Linked DNA regions of Homo sapiens: region 2 is linked to region 1. A link means that fine-mapping ties the variant in region 1 to the expression of a gene that starts in the linked region. Tissue or cell type: whole blood. Region 1 holds a variant in brackets; the other region holds the start of a gene. All regions are shown on one strand. Distances are from middle to middle.

What was found. PIP is the estimated chance that this variant, and not a neighbour inherited with it, causes the effect.
Region 2: EMB starts here. The variant in region 1 is fine-mapped to the expression of EMB in whole blood (TOPMed, PIP 0.93).

The regions. Positions count from the first base shown.
Region 1 is chr5:50,280,282-50,290,775 of GRCh38, forward strand. No RefSeq gene overlaps it. Among named protein-coding and RNA genes, the nearest start is that of EMB, 160 kb to the right of the region's middle. The variant A/C (reference allele first, on the strand shown) is at 5,866.
Region 2 is chr5:50,436,575-50,447,068 of GRCh38, forward strand. It overlaps EMB (embigin), which reads right to left and starts at 4,714. Exons shown (of 9, transcript NM_198449.3): 1 at 4,466-4,714. The coding sequence starts at 4,577. RefSeq lists silencers at 4,258-4,447, 4,528-4,657.

The DNA of each region.
Region 1 (10,494 bases):
GACGCAGAAGATGGGTGATTTCTGCATTTCCATCTGAGGTACCAGGTTCATCTCACTAGGGAGTGCCAGACAGTGGGCTCAGGTCAGTGGGTGCACGCACCATTCACGAGCCGAAGCAGGGAGAGGCATTGCCTCACTGGAGAAGCGCAATGGGTCAGGGAGTTCCTTTTCCTAGTCAAAGAAAGGGGTGAGAGCACCTGGAAAATCAGGTCACTCCCACCTGAATACTGCGCTTTTCCAATGGGCTTAAAAAACGGTGCACCACGAGATTATATCCCGCACCTGGCTCGGAGGCTCCTGTGCCCACGGAGTCTCCCTGATTGCTAGCACAGCAGTCTGAGGTCAAACTGCAAGGCGGCAACAAGGCTGGGGGAGGGGCGCCCGCCATTGCGCAGGCTTGCTTAGGTAAACAAAGCAGCCAGGAAGCTCAAACTGGGTGGAGCCCATCACAGCTCAAGGAGGCCTGCCTGCCTCTGTAGGCTCCACCTCTGGGGGCAGGGCACAGACAAACAAAAAGACAGCAGTAACCTCTGCAGACTGAAATGTCCTTCTCTGTCAGCTTTGAAGAGAGCAGTGGTTCTCCCAGCATGCAGCTGGAGATCTGAGAACGGGCAGACTGCCTCCTCAAGTGGGTCCCTGATGCCTGACCCCCGAGCAGAATAACTGGGAGGCACCCCACAGCAGGGGCAGACTGACACCTCACACGGCCAGGCACTCCAACAGAGCTGCAGCTGAGGGTCCTGTCTGCTAGAAAGAAAACTAACAAACAGAAAGGACATCCACACCAAAACCCATCTGTACATCACCATCATCAAAGACCAAAAGTAGATAAAACCACAAAGATGGGGAAAAAACAGAGCAGAAAAACTGGAAACTCTAAAAAGCAGAGCGCCTCTCCTCCTCCAAAGGACCACAGTTCCTCACCAGCAATGGAACAAAGCTGGACGGAGAATGACTTTGACGAGCTGAGAGAAGGCTTCAGATGATCAAATTACTCCAAGCTATGGGAAGACATTCAAACCAAAGGCAAAGAAGTTGAAAACTTTGAAAAAAATTTAGAAGAATGTATAACTACAATAACCAATAGAGAGAAGTTCTTAAAGGAGCTGATGGAGCTGAAAACAAAGTCTCGAGAACTACGTGAAGAATGCAGAAGCCTCAGGAGCCAATATGATCAACTGGAAGAAAGGGTATCAGCGATGGAAGATGAAATGAAGGAAATAAAGTGAGAAGGGAAGTTTAGAGAAGAAAGAATAGAAAGAAACGAACAAAGACTCCAAGAAATATGGGACTATGTGAAAAGACCAAATCTACGTCTGATTGGTGTACCTGAAACTGACGGGAGAATGGAAGCAAGTTGGAAAACACTCTGCCTGATATTATCCAGGAGAACCTCCCCAATCTAGTAAGGCAGGCCAACGTTCAGATTCAGGAAATACAGAGAATGCCACAAAGATACTACTCGAGAAGAGCAATTGCAAGACACAAAATTGTCAGATTCACCAAAGTTGAAGTGAAGGAAAAAATGTTAAGGGCAGCCAGAGAGAAAGGTTGGCTTACCCTCAAAGGGAAGCCCATCAGACTAACAGCGGATCTCTTGGCAGAAACTCTACAAGCCAGAAGAGAGTGGGGGCCAATATTCAACATTCTTAAAAAAAAGAATTTTCAACCCACAATTTCATATCCAGCCAAACTAAGCTTCATAAGTGAAGGAGAAACAAAATACTTTACAGACAAGCAAATGCTGAGAGATTTTGTCACCATCAGGCCTGCCCTAAAAGAGCTCCTGAAGGAAGTGCTAAACATGGAAAGGAAAAACTGGTACCAGCTGCTGGAAAATTATGCCAAAATGTAAAGACCATTGAGACTAGGAAGAAACTGCATCAACCAACGAGCAAAATAACCAGCTAACATCATAATAACAGGATCAAATTCAAACACAAAAATATTAACTTTAAATGTAAATGCACTAAATGCTATAATTAAAAGACACAGGCTGGCAAATTGGATATGGGGTCAAGACCCATCAGTCTGCTGTATTCAGGAAACCCATCTCATGTGCAGAGACACACATAGGCTCAAAATAAAAGGATGGAGGAAGGTCTAACAAGCAAATGGAAAACAAAAACGGCAGAGGTTGAATCCTAGTCTCTGATAAAACAGACTTTAAACCAACAAAGATCAAAAGAGACAAAGAAGGCCATTACTTAATGGTAAAGGGAACAATTCAACAAGAAGAGCTAACTATCCTAAATATATATGCACCCAATACAGGAGCACCCAGATTCATAAAGCAAGTCCTGAGTGACCTACAAAGAGACTTAGACTCCCACACATTAATAATGGGAGACTTTAACACCCCACTGTCAACATTAGACAGATCAACGAGACAGAAAGTCAACAAGGATACCCAGGAATTGAACTCAGCTCTGCACCAAGCGGACCTAATAGACATCTACAGAACTCTGCACCCCAAATCAACAGAATATACATTTTTTTCAACACCACACCACACCTATTCCAAAATTGACCACATACTTGGAAGTAAAGCTCTCCTCAGCAAATGTAAAAGAACAGAAATTATAACAAACTGTCTCTCAGACCACAGTGCAATCAAACTAGAACTCAGGATTAAGAATCTCACTCAACACCGCTCAACTACATGGAAACTGAACAACGTGCTCCTGAATGACTACTGGGTACATAACAAAATGAAGGCAGAAATAAAGAAGTTCTTTGAAACCAACGAGAACAAAGACACAACATACCAGAATCTCTGGGATGCATTCAAACCAGTGTGTAGAGGGAAATTTATAGCACTAAATGCCGACAAGAGAAAGCAGGAAAGATCTAAAACTGACACCTTAACATCACAGTTAAAAGAACTAGAAAAGCAAGAGCAAACACATTGAAAAGCTAGCAGAATGCCAGAAATAACTAAAATCAGAGCAGAACTAAAGGAAATAGAGACACAAAAAACCCTTCAAAAAGTTAATGAATCCAGGAGCCGGTTTTTTGAAAGGATCAACAAAATTGATACACCGCTAGCAAGACTAATAAAGAAAAAAAGAGAGAAGAATCAAATAGACGCAATAAAAAATGATAAAGGGGATATCACCACCGATCCCACAGAAATACAAACTACCGTCAGAGAATACTACAAACACCTCTATGCACATAAACTAGAAAATCTAGAAGAAATGGATAAATTCCTGGACACATATACTCTCCCAAGACTAAACAAGGAAGAAGTTGAATCTCTGAATAGACCAATAGCAGGATCTGAAATTATGGAAATAATCAATAGCTTACCAAGCAAAGAGTCCAGGACCAGACGGATTCAAAGCAGAATTCTACCAGAGGTACAAGGAGGAACTGGTACCATTCCTTCTGAAACTATTCCAATCAACAGAAAAAGAGGGAATCCTCCCTAACTCATTTCATGAGGCCAGCATCATCCTCATACCAAAGCCGGGCAGAGACGCAACCAAAAAAGAGAATTTTAGACCAATATCCTTGATGAACATTGATGCAAAATCCTCAAAAAAATACTGGCAAACTGAATCCAGCAGCACATCAAAAAGCTTATCCACCATGATCAAGTGGGCTTCATCCCTGAGATGCAAGGTTGGTTCAACATATGCAAATCAATAAATGTAATCCAGCATATAAACAGAACCAAAGACAAAAACCACATGATTATCTCAATAGATGCAGAAAAGGCCTTTGACAAAATTCAACAACACTTCTTGCTAAAAACTCTCAATAAATTAGGTATTGATGGGACTTATTTCAAAATAATAAGAGCTGTCTATGACAAACCCACAGCCAATCTCATATTGAATGGGCAAAAACTGGAAGCATTCCCTTTGAAAACTGGCACAAGACAGGGATGCTCTCTCTCACCACTCCTATTCAACATAGTGTTGGAAGTTCTGGCCAGGGCAATTAGGCAGGAGAAGGAAATAAAGGGTATTCAATTAGGAAAAAGGAAGTCAAATTGTCCCTGTTTGCAGACGCCATGATTGTATATCTAGAAAACCCCATTGTCTCAGCCCAAAATCTCCTTAAGCTGATAGGCAACTTCAGCAAAGTCTCAGGATAAAAAATCAATGTACAAAAATCACAAACATTCTTATACACCAACAACAGACAAACAGAGAGCCAAATCATGAATGAACTCCAATCACAATTGCTTCAAAGGGAACAAAATACCTAGGGATCCAACTTACAAGGGACATGAAGGACCTCCTCAAGGAGAACTACAAACCACTGCTCAATGAAATAAAAGAGGATGCAAACAAATGGAAGGACATTCCACGCTCATGGGTAGGAAAAATCAATATTGTGAAAATGGCCATACTGCCCAAGATAATTTACAGATTCAATGCCATCCCCATCAAGCTACCAATGACTTTCTTCACAGAATTGGAAAAAACTACTTTAAAGTTCATATGGAACCAAAAAAGAGCCTGCATCGCCAAGTCAATCCTAAGCCAAAAGAACAAAGCTGGAGGCATCACACTACCTGACTTCAAACTATACTACAAGGCTACAGTAACCAAAACAGCATGGTACTGGTACCAAAACAGCATGGTACTGGTACCAAAACAGAGATATAGATCAATGGAACAGAACAGAGACCTCAGAAATAACGCCGTATATCTACAACTATCTGATCTTTGACAAACCTGAGAAAAACAAGCAATGGGGAAAGGATTCCCTATTTAATAAATGGTGCTGGGAAAACTGGCTAGCCATAAGCAGAAAGCTGAAACTGGATCCCTTTCTTACACCTTATACAAAAATGAATTCAAGATGGATTAAAGACTTAAACGTTAGACCTAAAACCATAAAAACCCTAGAAGAAAACCTAGGCATTACCATTCAGGACATAGGCATGGGCAAGGACTTCATGTCTAAAACACCAAAAGCAATGGCAACAAAAGCCAAAATTGACAAATGAGATCTAATTAAACTAAAGAGCTTCTGCACTGCAAAAGAAACTACCATCAGAGTGAACAGGCAACCTACAAAATGGGAAGAAATTTTTGCAACCTACTCATCTGACAAAGGGCTAATATCCAGAATCTACAATGAACTCAAATTTACAAGAAAAAAACAAACAACCCTGTCAAAAAGTGGGCAAAGGAAATGAACAGACACTTCTCAAAAGAAGACATTTACACAGCCAAAAAACACATGAAAAAATGCTCACCATCACTGGCCATCACAGAAATGCAAATCAAAACCACAATGAGATACCATCTCACACCAGTTAGAATGGCGATCATTAAAAAGTCAGGAAACAACAGGTGCTGGAAAGGATGTGGAGAAATAGGAACACTTTTACACTGTTGGTGGGACTGTAAACTAGTTCAACCATTGAGGAAGTCAGTGTGGTGATTCCTCAGGGATCTAGAACTAGAAATACCATTTGACCCAGCCATCCCATTACTGGGTATATACCCAAAGGAGTATAAATCATGCTGGTATAAAGACACATGCACACGTATGTTTATTGTGGCTTTATTTACAATAGCAAAGACTTGGAACCAACCCAAATGTCCAACAGTGATAGACTGGATTAAGAAAATGTGGCACATATACACCATGGAATACTATGCAGCCATAAAAAATGATGAGTTCATGTCCTTTGTAGGGACATGGATGAAATTGGAAATCATCATTCTCAGTAAACTATCGCAAGAACAAAAAACCAAACACCGCATATTCTCACTCATAGGTGGGAATTGAACAATGAGAACACATGGACACAGGAAGGGGAACATCACACTCTGGGGACTGTTGTGGGGTGGGGGGAGGGGGTGGGATAGCACTGGGATATATACCTAATGCTAGATG[A/C]GGAATTAGTGGGTGCAGCGCAGCAGCATGGCACACGTATACATATGTAACTAACCTGCACATTGTGCACAAGTACCCTTAATCTTAGAGTATAATAATAATAAATTTTAAAAAATCAAAACAAACAAACAAAAAAAACAGCTAGTTTCTGATCCCACAGGTCTGGGAGGGGTTTCAAAGTTTGCAATACTAACAAATTCTCAAGTAATGCTTACACTGCTCTTCCAGGAGCTACACTTTGAAAATCATGCTAAGCCTTCATGTACCAAAAAATAAGCCATTAAATACAAAAGATCACTTATACTCTTCTGCCAGGTGCCTATTTGTCTTATATTTGCAAAACCAACAGCCTTCCTGGGCTCAGGTGACCCTTCTCCATATCAAAAGAAAAAATTTCAGCATCTCTAAATTATAATATTAAAATTGAACCTGTAAAAGAGGAGAAACATATTTCAGGTGATAAACAAGAAATTCAACCTTGTGGTGACATTGCAACATCTAGGAGGAAATGTTGTTGGATGTTGATGGTTTAGGTGAGAGGAAAGTAGTTAATAGTTCAGATTTTTGAGTGAGACTTTCTTGGGAGTAGTGCTTCAGTGAAGGACAACTGATAACAAGGGTCTATGCTTATAGGAAGCTCCAAAATTAGGGGAGGAAGAAAAGTTAAGAAGGAATCAAGAGAGTGGGTAATTTAGAAGCAAATGCAGAGTAGGATGGTGCTAGGAACGCAGGCAAAGCCATGTTAACAAGGCAGACAGCAGTGTAAAAGGCAGAAGAAAAGTATGGTCTGAAAAGGGAGTCTTGGATTTTTAAAAGACAGAACAAGGTAATTTTGGAGCTGGCAACAATCTAAATGATGATATAAGGCAAAGTTTTTTTAAAAATTTGCCCATTTCCCTTAGTTAGAGATGCAGTTTACATGTCAACAATACAAGTTATATGTCAACAATACAGTTTATATGTCAACAATACAGTTCACATGTCAACCATACAAGTTAAACAGTAAAGTGAAAGTTTTTGTGTGTGTGTTTGTTCTGTTTTGTTTTGTTTTGTTTTGTTTTGTTCTGTTTTGTTTTGAGATGGATTCTCACTCTGTCTCCCAGGCTGGAGTGCAGTGGTGCAATCTCGGCTGGATGCAACCTCTGCCTCCCAGATTCAAGCGATTCTCCCTCCTCAGCCTCCCGAGTAGCTGGGACTACAGGTATACAGTACCACGTCTGGCTAATTTTTGTATTTTTGGTAGAGACGGAGTTTCAACATGTTGGCCAGGCTGGTCACGAACTCCTGACCTCAGGTGATCCACCAGCCTAGGCCTCCCAAAGTCTTGGGATTACAGGCGTGAGCCACCACTCCCAGCCTAAAGTGAAAGTTTTTTAAAGAAATGCACGTCTCTATTTTCTACTTCATTTGGTCAAGTAATGGGTCATGACATGAACTTGAAAAACCACTGTTCTAGGTTAGCCTACTCGTTTCACTGAGGAAAGTAAGGCTGAAAGTATACAGGACCATAGCAAATCCAATATTCACATGAAGGATCCTGACTTCTAGTCTACTGTAAGGCCAAGTTAATCACCCTAGGGAAGGCATTTTTCATGGCCTTGAGTTTATAAAACACCTCAGCCTTAAATGCTTTTCATATTTTAGCCTTTGAATGTTTATTGTTGTGACAATGTATATAAACATTGAGATTTCTGTTCCACCTACCACAAAAATTACTCTATTAAAAATACAAGAATATAGTTTATAAGTACACTAGCTTGATTCCAGGTACCATTGATTTTGTTTGTCTACTTAATTGTGTTTTCCAAGTATTAGCTCTGGACCTCCTAACAGGCAGCCTTCACTAATCCCTGAGAGTTCTGATCCTTTGCTCTTTTCACTCTATTGCTCTAGTACCCAATTGCCTGGCAAGAAGAATAGAGTAGAAATGCTGGAGTCCAAGAAATCTGGTTCAAAAATAATTTGTGCAATTTTTAGCTGGACATATTGGACAGGTCCTCTTTTCTCTGTGATCTCTGTTTTTCTCATGTTTAAAATCTAAATAACACAGTCAATTTCATGTTATATCTAAATGAAATACTGCAATAGAGTACTGCACAAACATGCAATTATTTATTCTCTTACCCAGACAAGGCAGCTCAGTGCCTGGCATAAAGTGTCATTCAATAAACATAGTTACCTACGCTCATTTCTACATCCCTCCAAGGTACTGCTCTCCCAACAATTAAGTCCTGTTCTAAATTCAGTCTTATGCCTCTACTGTTACACCTATGCCAAAGCTAGCATGAATGATTTGAGAGTCTACCGAAGGGAAAAAAATCTGGTTTTCTCTGAACAACACATCCATCCAGGAGACTTATCATTAGAAAAACCAGTAAAGAGAGGATCAGAGCTAGCTGAAAATAATTTTTCAACATGGTAAATAGGTATTATGAGATTTTCCCTTTGAAATGACTTGGTTTAAACCTCTCTTTATATATAGCGCTTCACAATAGTTGATATTTTACATTTGTTTATTGATCTAACCCTTCCTATCCAACTGTAAACATCTTGAGGGCAAGGTCTGTGTCCTCTTTTTCTTAGAATTCTCTCATGGCATTCATCTCAACTGTCTTCCTACAAAAAACTATTGTGTGTGTTGCACCAGTAAGATTGGGTTTTATACAGGTTTAGGGTGAAGTATGGTACATAAAGGTTTTCCCTCTGAAATCCATGCTGTTCTTAGCAGAGAGCAGTGAGTAACCAGTCCATTATAGGAATGAACAAACAGCCTGCATTCTGTAAAAGTTTCCAAGGAAATACTACCTATAGGGTCTTCTCAGTAGAGATTTAGGCAAACAGACTAAAAATAAAACCAGTGCTACAGTCCCTCTCTCCCAACAGCTTCAAGAACGTGCTTTGATTTGAAACAGATAGATTTGCTTTGAGCACAATACTCCTGACGGCCAAAACATAACACAAATATTCTTTCTGATACTTTAGAATACCCAAGGCCCACGATTCAGGAAAAACACCTGTAAAAAAATGACATCAACTCTATAAAAGTTTCCAAAATAAAATTGCTAATGCTGTTTAGCTTGATTCATGTAAATATTTTTAAGGGAAACATTCTAGACTCCTTTTCATACCTCAGGACTATAATAAATCAGATATAAAAAGACTATAAGTCCCTAGAATTCAGTTGATAATTTTTAAATATCTATTTTAAGCTGTTTACAGATCGCAGAATTCTCAGATAGAGGCCTCATCTGATTTCTTCCTTGTAATCATTCTGGGAGATACTACCGTTTTACTTATATTTCATAGATGAGGAAACTGAGTGAAGTGATTTTTCTACAGTCATCACCCAAGGTCAATGCTTCCACATTTTGAACTGTTTTTTATTCTTTAAATCATGCAGTTTCTCTACAGTTCTTTGGTACTATAGTGTTTTAATTTTCCTTTATTCTATCTTGGTGTCCAAGGAAAATTTTGCTTATGAGGTACTTTCCTCTAGCATAGTTACCATGTGATGGCAAATTCCACCTTGAATCAGAGCAGTAGGAAAAATAACAAAGGAAGAATCACAAAGAGCATCTGCTGATGATAACAAAGGCTATAGAGAGGCTGGAATGGAAAATTCTGGGAACAAGGATGGCGCTTCCCTTAAAAGCTACACAGCACTTTATGCATGGATTTTTAACAATTTTTCTTTCAGTCATCGGGACATGACAATGATCTAGAATGTAGAACTGTAGTAAGCAATTTTAGGTGAGCTATTGGTAAAAAATTACCTGAGAGTTAGCATGTGCTACCACAATTTATATACAACCTGAAAATTTTATGATACAGCGTTAAATAAGAATGGCTTAGCTAAATAGTGTGTGTAAGCAATAACCTTCCACTGTCTTTATGTCTTCACAATAGCAGCAGATACCTACCAGGATTGACTCATGCCATTCTGTCTTAATGGGTCTGCTTTCACAAGTTTTTCTATTGCTTCAATAATGCGAATCCAACTATATTCCTTTGCCTTAATTAAGTTTTTTCAATTACATTCTAAATCTTACATGTTTCATGCCAATTTCCATAACTATCAGCTTTAATGTGACACTTTAGAAAACAGAATTTCAAATATCAAATATGCATTCCATATTTCTTTAAAAAAAACTGTTCCAATACTGAGTTTCCAGATTCATTTATTTGATCAAAAATTTAGTAATAAGCTGGTATTTTTTAAAAGCCTAAAGTTATTTGGGAAGCAATTGGGGAAATTTTAATTATGAACTAGAAGTTAGGTGATAGGAAATTATATTAATTTTGTTAGGTATCATTGTAAAATTGTGGCTTGTAGACAAAAGTATGTTTAGGAAATATTGAAGTATTTCTAGGTAAAGTGTAATGATACATGATGCTTATTTATTATGATTTCAATAAAAAATTATGTGTATGTATAGAGAGATAGATGTATTTTATGGCAATCTATAAACATCTATAGATATATATCTATATCTATCTGTATATGATAGAGTGCTGCATATTTATAGATGACAATAACAATTAAGCAAATAATAGAAAGTATAAAACATTAAATGTAGGTTGCCGTTACTGTGCTAACTGTATCAGTTTTGTGGATATGTATTAATTGTA
Region 2 (10,494 bases), 160 kb after region 1:
CTGCTGCTCCTGCACAAAAGCCTTGTTAAACTTGCTCAACTCTGGGATCCTGTGTCAAGCTGCCCGCTGCAGGAGCAACCATTCACTGTGCTCAGGCCCTAATACTCCACACCAGGCTGCCCTCCTGCCTGATGCCATCCTTACCAGGGTCAGCCTCAGATATCCTGATCTGGTCCCCTTGGGCTCCACCCACTTAGTGAGGATGTCTCCTTGCTCTTCCCCACCAAATAACTATAGGACCTATGGAGGGAAAGATGAGAGGTAGGAGGGAAGGGAACGAGGGTGACAGAAGATGAGGAAGAGTCAGTTGCCCTAATTCTTAACAAATGTTTTCAACATATAATTTTTTTGTGATGATAAATTTAGGGTAAAAATGGTCATGCATCAGAAACATCACTATTAAAAGTAGGCTTAGGCTGGGCACCGTAGCTCTCGCCTATAATCCCAACACTTTGGGAGGCTGAGGCAGGAAGATCGCTTGAGCCTAGGAGTTCAAGGCCAGCCTAGGCAACCTAGTGAAACCCCATCTCTACAAAAAATACAAAAATTAGCCGGGTGTGGTGGCATATGCCTGTAGTCCCAGCCATGTGGGAGGCTGAAGTGGGAGGATCTCTTGAGCCCAGAAGGTCAAGGCTGCCCTGAGCCATGAGTGTGCCTCGGTACTCCAGCCTGAGTGACAGAGTGAGACCCTGTCTCAAAAATTAAATGAATGAATGAATGAATAAATAAATAAAAGTAGGCTTATGGTTCATCTGTTCCATTTAAACAGATTTTGGTCTTTGATCATTTGATCAAAGTGCTGTCTGCCAAGCTTCTCCACCATAAAGTTACTCTTTTTCCCTTGATATTAATGAGCACATTCTGAAGAGTTACTCTGAATCTTTAATACTTTGTACCCCATCAAACTTTTCATTGACTCCTTTTTAAATTTACATCAGTGGGTACTCATGAATTCCCATATTATTAAATGAGTTGCAATCCACTAATATCATTATTTATTTGATGCTCAATTTGTCCCAGATTTGTCCAGTGGGAACCCCTTTAAATGTCCTTAAAGGTAAAAACTGCCAGCATGTTCTACTGAGATATGGACTAACAATGTCAGACATATGTGGGTGCTTGAATAGTATTTGCTTCAAAAATATTTATTACTAGAAAGCTGCTGTGTTTGGGGTGAGAGGTTAGTAGGGAAGGGGGTTCATAAAGGGAATGCAAAAGCCACGTCCTCTGGAAGTTAAAAGGATCATTTTAAATGATTCTACTGCAAACATTTTTCAAAAGATAAACATGACCCATTTCTCCAATTTGTGTCATGTAATAGTAATAATAATGATATTTAAATACTCCCACTGATATATCCTTTACAAAGATATATTATATGTCTTATTTAATCAAAAAACCTTAAAACAGTCCCTGTACCTAATTTTATTCCAGGACTCAAACTGTGTCAGCATGTCATTCAGTGCAAATCAGACATTTAGATGCATAGGCTATGCTGTCAGTAGTTCTGAACTTTCATAGACATTTCCAATTAGCTCGGAGAGACAACTGGATATTGTGTTTAAGCACTGTGTTTAGGAAAACAGGCACTGGATGGACCAATGCCAAATTTCCTGCTCTGCTGCTTAACTAAGTATGTGTAATTACTTGGGCAATTAAGCAATTACTTGGGCAATTACATAAGCCAAGCCCCAATTTCTTCATCTTGAGCCCAGAAGGTCAAGGCTGCAGTGAGCCGTGAATGTGCCTCTGCCCTCCAGCCTGAGCGACAGAGTGAGAATTCCCCAGGAGTGCAGAGGTTCTCAGAACTGCAATACTCTGAGATGAATTTTGAAAGGTGAATCAGGGATAGAAGAATTAGGGATACCCAGAAAGGAGAAAAATGTTCTAGACAATTCTTTTTTCTTTTTTCAGCTGGAACTAAAAAAATGCTAACTCATAGGGCTATACATTTATAACTATTCTTATTATTAAAATTTGACTCAAAGTCTTAGGTTAACAGACAACCTGTGTCTAAGTATGTAGGCCTATACATCTAGGTCAAAAATATCCAGTAAACCTCACAATATCCTTTGGCAAAGAGAAAAATGAATTTCCCAGAGATCAATACCGAATCTAGAAAACAAGCTGAGAGTGCCTGACAATTTTTAATTCTGGCTTAAATTCGATGCTAACTTCATAACTTTTGTCTTGTACATTATTCCACAATTTTAGCTTACGTGGAGCTAAAAGAGCAGAACTTATACCATATACATAGAGTGACATCCCCTCCCCCATTCATCTTATTGATTTACACCTTCATTTATTCCACTTTCATTTGTTTCCTACCTTTTTTTTTTTTTTTCCTTTAGAGATCTTCTCTGCATATCAACTTAACCCTGACGCCTATGGAATAAGTATTTACCTAACAGTGCACTGTCTAGGCCATATCATTTTAAAGCTGTGGTTTTTAACCAGCTTAAAATCACATTTAAAGCTACATGGAGAGCTGATGAAACTCCTTAATGCCCACACTGAATCCCAAGCCAAATGAACCAGAGTTTTGCGGGAAAAGATCCAGGTATCAGGATTTTTCAAGCTCTCTGGTGATTCTGACATACAGTCAAGTAGAGAATCAAAGTTCTACAATGAATCCAGAATGCACTGGTTCTCAGAACTGCAATACTCTGAGGTGAACCAGGGATAGAAGAATTGGAGATACCCAGAAGGGGGAAAAATGTCCTGGACAATTCTGTTTCTTTTTCTTTCTTTTTTTTTGAGACAGTTTTGCACTGTCACCCAGGCTGGAGCTTAGTGGCACCATCACCATCATAGCTCACTGCAGCCTCAAACTTTGGACTGAAGCAATCTTTCTGCCTTGGCATCCCAAGCACCTGGGACTACTGGTGTACATCACCACAACCGCACTTTTAATTTTTTTTTTTTTTTTTTTAATAAAGAAGGGACCTTGCTATGTTGCCCGGGGTGGTCTTGAACTCCTGGATTCCAGCCATCCTCCCACCTCAGCGCCCAAAAGTGCTGGGATTACAGGCCTGGACAATTCTTTATAAGTGGTATTATGGAAAAGAGATGTGGCACAAGGAAATCTGCGAAGGAACCCACGATGTTCTGTCCAAGTTGTTAACAACTAGACGTTTTAAAAGGCATTTATAAAAATTAATAGTCTTACCTTTTGATTATCCTTCCTTCTCTATGGTGTGTTACAAAAATTCCACATCTTACAAGCCCATGAAAATAAATTCCCATGAGAGTTTGAAAACTTTTTGCAGAATAATGTCCCAATTTTAGTTACTGGTGGCCAATATTTACCAGCTTGAGAGGTGGTCTTTTATTACCCTTACTGGCTGGTAACATTTATGACACAGAAACTTGCAATAGGTTGGATGGAATCCTTTCAATATGAAAAGTAATTATAAACAGGTGAAGGTAGAATGGCAACTTTCGTGTTGGCTTTGTTAATGTTTTGCACGTAATCCCTCTGTCAAAGTGTCTTAAACAATAAAACAACAAGCAAAAATCTCACACATACACACACACACATGCACACACACATTTTGTTTTCAAAGACCACGGTGTAAAATGAAGATACACACACGTTATCCTGTAAGTTGTGGATCTTTGGTTGGCTAGTTGGTTATGATGTTTTTTCCCCTACTCAGCTCTAAAAAAACATCCTCGGCAAGGTGAGGTGGCTCACGCCTGTAATCCCAGCACTTTGGGAGGCCGAAGCGGGCGGATCACCTCAGGTTGGGAGTTCGAGACCAGACTGACCAATGTGGAGAAGCCCAGTCTCTACTAAAAATATAAAATTAGCCCGGCGTGGTGGCGCATGCCTGTAATCCCAGCTACTCTGGAGGCTGACAGAGGAGAATCGCTTGAACCCGGGAGGAGGAGGTTGCGGTGAGCCGAGATCACGCCATTGCACTCCAGCCTGGGCAACAAGAGTAAAACTCCGTCTCAAAAAAAAAAAAAAAAAAAAAAAAAAAATCCTCAAAGCCAACCCACCTGCCAAGAGGAGGGAAGGAGGTGATACTCGAGCCTTACTCTCGAATCAAGAAAAGGGAGTAGGCCTTGGGGAAATGTGGCTTTCAAAATTCATGCCATATTTGCCCAAGCCAAGTCGCTAGCTGGTCCCTGCAACCACCCACACACCCCACTGCCTTCTTCCTAGGAAAAACCAGACTCTGCCCTGTTACCTACGCGCCCGACTCGCGGGGCGCTGTTCGTTCAAGACTCGCCCCAAAGAGCGCAGGAACGCGAGCCGCAGCAGTTTCAGGGTTCAGCTTAGGTGACACAAACGTAGCTAATGGGAGGCCGCCGCCGACTCTCCCACCCGCCCTTACCAGCATCCCCGCGCCTCTCCCCGCCACCCTTGCCCGGCGCGCCGGCGATGCCCTCTGCCCGCGGGGACCCGAGCCTCGCGCGCCCTCCGCCCTCCCTACCCTGGACCCTGTACCCATCACACCTGGGGCACTGCCGTCCGCCGAGCTTGGGCGCGCGGCAGCGAGAAGGCACTGGAGGAGGAGCAGCCGGGGCGTACGCGCCCTGGCCTCCAGCAGGCCGGGGAGGGCGCGCATGGCGCCAGAGGGTCCGCCTGGGTCCTCGTGGAGACTGCTCCCTCAGCTCGCCGCCGCGGGTGTCCAGAGTCCCTGCGCACACTCGCAGGTGGCCCGGCGCTCGCAGCCAGTGCCGCGGGTAGGACGCTGAAGAAAAGGCGGAATGGGAGGGGCCCGGCCGCCTTGCCCCACTCCCCCGAGACGCTCTTACCGCGCCCGGCCCTCCATCAGTTATGCAGCCCTCAGCCGGCTGCTGGCGTTCCCGGATGTGCGGTGGCGGTGCTACTTCCCGGCTGCAGCCTCTCCGGCCTCCGCCCTCTCGGCTCTAGCAGGTCGGGAGAGAGCTTGGGCAGGTGATGTCTAGCCAATCTCGTGGGGAGAGGTCGAAACTCTGCCTACAGACTGGCCTTTGCACTTCACCTGAGGCAGGTTTCACTAATTTGCTTTGATGGGACAGATGAGAAACACTTTTCTCCTCCCGGACCCCGGACATCTTTGGGCTTTCTTACGAGGGAGGCTTATTTTTGCGCAGGTGTAAGGTTTTATCCAGCTGCCAGACAACTTGTGTTAATCTTTCTTTGCTTTGCCTACCAATCACACACATTCTCTCTTCTAGTCTCTGAAGGCTTAACTGATTTTCTCCGGATGAAGGTTTTAGAGTCCCAAGGCCCCATACCGTGTCTGATTTTACTTTATTTTTGTTTGTTAAGCCTAACAGCTTCTGAGGAGCCACCTAGAGCTCAAGAAGCAAAAGCTACTGAGAGTAGATACTATGTAAACTGCACAAGACATTGACCTTTGTTAAATCCGAACACTCTTTAAGATAATGCTCTTACCCACAAGGCTGTAGCTTGGAATATTCAGTGCTCTGAACCAAATTAAATAAATTAGTGCTTTATCCGGGAGGGGAGGAGAAATCTATATTGTAACATTGAAACACATTGATTTGATTTCTCTCCAGGATGTTATAACGCATTAAAAGATATTTTTAAAATTTTTCACGAGCTTTGTTTCCTCTCCCTTTATTTTTTTGAAGTTCAGCTTTCACATTCGTAAATTCAAAATATATCGGCGTTAAAAAAAAAAGGATTGGAAATAACATGAGACAAATTTTGAAAATTGAGCTATTTAACAAAACCTGTGTTTATTCCAGGCAGGAATGGTTAATTTGTAATTGGTACGTATTACTAAAACACGTCTGTTTCTGGTTTAGTATTATATGCACAAAACTTTGGAAACAGAATGTAGATTCTTCAAATTGGCAGTGAGATAATATGAATAATACAATTCATTCAACAATATTATCTACCAGGTGCCAATCTACCATTGTGTTCAAAAGAGGCTAGATAGGCACACATGCACAAATGCACGCATGCACACATGTACACACACACACACACAAATTAGACAACTGTTTATCTGTGAATGACAAATCTCAGAAAAGCCTCTTCTCAGAAAATTATGGTCAAAATTATTAAAATCTTCTGAATGAAACTTTAAAAGATGCCTTCAAGGACTAAATCTTATACACTGTTGACCCTCTGAGGGCATTGACTGGGCTTGCTAAACCCAAATTGCCTAATCAATGGCTGCTACATCACACCTCTTTCTTTCAACCCTGCATCTGGTCTCAGGACTAACTGCACACATTTCCCTATAATTAGGTAGAGTGTCAACAGTAAGCACTTCTCACCTCAAACTAAACTCTGACTGACTTTTCCCAGTTAGTCTCATAAAATCCTTAGACACAAATTCACCCTTCTTAAAGAAACATTTTTTTCAGTTGAATCAGCCTATTTATGACCAGAAAAACTTACTTACCCAAGTTGATGCTGATCCCCACTGTTGCTTTTGCTGTTGGAACAAAAGAGTTGAGAAAGAAATATAATTCTCATTTTGCTAAGCATTTTGAAAGTCTTTTCATCACTGTTCCTGTTCTATATTTAGATATTTGATATTTCCAGCCTTATGTACATTCCACTTTTTCAAATGCTCCATATCCTTTAAAACAAGCTTATTGACTGCCTTCCCTATATAACTTTTTCTATCCCTGATTCACCTTTCAAAATTCATCTCAGAGTATTGCAGTTCTGAGAACCTCTGCACTCCTGGGGAATTCTCACTCTGTCGCTCAGGCTGGAGGGCAGAGGCACATTCACGGCTCACTGCAGCCTTGACCTTCTGGGCTCAAGACGAAGAAATTGGGGATTGGCTTAAGTAATTGCCCAAGTAATTGCTTAAGTAATTGCCCAAGTAATTACACATACTTAGTTAAGCAGCAGAGCAGGAAATTTGGCATTGGTCCATCCAGTGCCTGTTTTCCTAAACACAGTGCTTAAACACAATATCCAGTTGTCTCTCCGAGCTAATTGGAAATGTCTATGAAAGTTCAGAACTACTGACAGCATAGCCTATGCATCTAAATGTCTGATTTGCACTGAATGACATGCTGACACAGTTTGAGTCCTGGAATAAAATTAGGTACAGGGACTCTTTTAAGGTTTTTTGATTAAATAAGACATATAATATATCTTTGTAAAGGACATATCAGTGGGAGTATTTAAATATCATTATTATTACTATTACATGACACAAATTGGAGAAATGGGTCATGTTTATCTTTTGAAAAATGTTTGCAGTAGAATCATTTAAAATGATCCTTTAACTTCCAGAGGACGTGGCTTTTGCATTCCCTTTATGAACCCCCTTCCCTACTAACCTCTCACCCCAAACACAGCAGCTTTCTAGTAATAAATATTTTTGAAGCAAATACTATTCAAGCACCCACATATGTCTGACATTGTTAGTCCATATCTCAGTAGAACATGCTGGCAGTTTTTACCTTTAAGGACATTTAAAGGGGTTCCCACTGGACAAATCTGGGACAAATTGAGCATCAAATAAATAATAATATTAGTGGATTGCAACTCAGGGATAGAAGTACTGGGGATACCCAGAAGAGAGAAAAATGTTCTAGACAATTCTTTTTTCTTTTTTCAGCTGGAACTAAAAAAATGCTAACTCATAGGGCTATACATTTATAACTATTCTTATTATTAAAATTTGACTCAAAGTCTTAGGTTAACAGACAACCTGTGTCCAAGTATGTAGGCCTATACATCTAGGTCAAAAATATCCAGTAAACCTCACAATATCCTTTGGCAAAGAGAAAACTGAATTTCGCAGAGATCAATACCGAATCTAGAAAACAAGCTGAGAGTGCCTGACAATTTTTAATTCTGGCTTAAATTCGATGCTAACTTCATAACTTTTGTCTTGTACATTATTCCACAATTTTAGCTTACGTGGAGCTAAAAGAGCAGAACTTATACCATATACGTAGAGTGACATCCCCTCCCCCATTCATCTTATTGATTTACACCTTCATTTATTCCACTTTCATTTGTTTCCTACCTTTTTTTTTTTTTTTCTCTTTAGAGATCTTCTCTGCATATCAACTTAACCCTGATGCCTATGGAATAAGTATTTACCTAACAGTGCACTGTCTAGGCCATATCATTTTAAAGCTGTGGTTTTTAACCAGCTTAAAATCACATTTAAAGCTACATGGAGAGCTGATGAAACTCCTTAATGCCCACACTGAATCCCAAGCCAAATGAACCAGAGTTTTGCGGGAAAAGATCCAGGTATCAGGATTTTTCAAGCTCTCTGGTGATTCTGACATACAGTCAAGTAGAGAATCAAAGTTCTACAATGAATCCAGAATGCACTGGTTCTCAGAACTGCAATACTCTGAGGTGAACCAGGGATAGAAGAATTGGAGATACCCAGACGGGGGAAACTTTTTCTGACCTTTCTGGTCCAAATTGACCTTTTCCTCCTTGGTGAAATAAATATTGCAACAAGCACTTTGATACTCTCATCATGAAGCGTATAAAGGGGGAATAAGGGTCCTTTGTTTTCTCCCCTTGAGTTGGGTGGGCTCTTTGACTCCCCTAACCTACTGAATATTGCTGAAGAGATACTGTGTGGGCTGGCCAGGCGTGGTGGCTCGCGCCTGTAATTCCAGCACTTTGGGAGGCTGAGGCAGGCAGATCACAAGGTCAGGAGCTCGAGACCAGCCTGGCCAATATGGTGAAACCCCGTCTCTACTAAAAATGCAAAAAAAAAAAAAAAAAAAAAAAAAATTAGCTGTGCATGGTGGCGCATGCCTGTAATCCCAGATACTTGGGAAGCTAAGTCAGGAGAATTGCTTGAACCCAGGAGGCAGAGCTTGCGGCAAGCCAACATCGCACCACTGCACTCCAGCCAGGGCAACAGAGCAAGACTGTCTCAAAACAAAAAAAGAGAGAGAGAGATTGTGTGAGCTTTCTGTTCCAGACCACAAGAGCTTCCACTTCCTTTCTGTTGGAGATCTTGCTCATAGAAGACACCTGCCTAGTGAAAAGTACTACAGTATTATCCTGAGACTGCCACACTGTGAGAAACCCAAACGCCATGGAGGACCCCGTAAAAATAAAGTCAGGTCAAGTAAAAAAGGAATATGAAGGTTTATTATACATACAGAAGAATAGTTCACAAACCAGAAGACTTCAAATCAAAAATAGTAAGAAACTTGACGTGAGAGTTACAGTGCAGCTTATAAAGCATCAATGAGGAAGTGCATTGACCTCTGCTGTGACTGGCTATTAAAAACATATTCCTTTTTGGGCAAGTAGAGTTGTATAAACTTATTTATCTGTAACAAATTGGTTCAATTTCATCATACTAACAAGAAAGGAAAGCTTAACTTTTGTTAATCATTAGAAATTGCATTTCAGAGAAATCAGGATAGCTTAAATTTTGGTTATGTGGCTATGAGTGGTTGACCTAAGAATATACTGTTGCCTCCATTTTGATTATACTTTAACAAATCCCTCATACAGGACCTTAAATCATTGTTGATTGTTTCCTTTGCTGTGCAGAAGCTTTTTAGCCTGGTTCAATGCCATTTGTCTATTCTTTCTTGGTTGCCTGTGCTTTAGAGGTCTTACACAAAATGTCATTGCTCAGCCTAATGTCCTGGAACACTTCCGCAAAGTTTTCATCTAATTGTTTCATAGTCATAGTTCCAGGTATTAGATTTAAACCTTTCATCCATTTTAATTTTATTTTTGTGTATGGTGAGATATAGGGGTTTATTTCATCCTTCTACATGTAATTACCCAGTTTTCCCAGCACCATTTATTAAACAGACTCTCCTTTTCCTGTTGTATGCTCTTGGTGCTGTTGTTGAAGATGAGTTGGCTGTCAATGCATTGATTTATACCTGGGTTCTCTATTCTGTTTCATTGGTCTGTGTGTCTGTTTTCTTGCCAGTTCTATGCTAATTTGGTTACTATAGCTTTTTTTTTTAATGTTTAATTTTTGTTTTAAGTTCCAGGGTACATGTGCAGAATATGCAGGTTTTTTATGTAGGTAAATGTGTGCCACCGTGGTTTGCTTCACAGATCATCCCATCACCTAGGTATTAAGCCCAGCATGCATTAGCTATTCTTCCTGATGCTTTCCTTCCTGCAACACCCCACCCCCAAAAGGCCAAGTATGTGTCCATGTGGTCTCATCATTCAGCTCATTCAGGTGAGAATATGTGGTGTTTGGTTTTCTGTCCCTGCGTTCATTTGCTGAGGATAACAGCTTCCAGCTCTGTCTATGTCCCTACAAAGGACATGATCTTGTTCCTTTTTATGGCTGCATAGTATTCCATGGTGTATATGTACAACATTTTCTTTATCCATTCTACCATTGATGGGCATTTTGATAGATTCCATGTCTTTAATATTGTGAATCGTTGGTTATTATATCTTTGCAGTAAATTTTGAAGTCAGGTAATGTGATGCCTCCAGCTTTTTTTGTTTTTTTCTTATTTTGCTTGGAATTGCTTTGGGTCTTCAGGGTCTTTCTGGTTTCATATAAATTTTAGCATTTGTCCTATTTC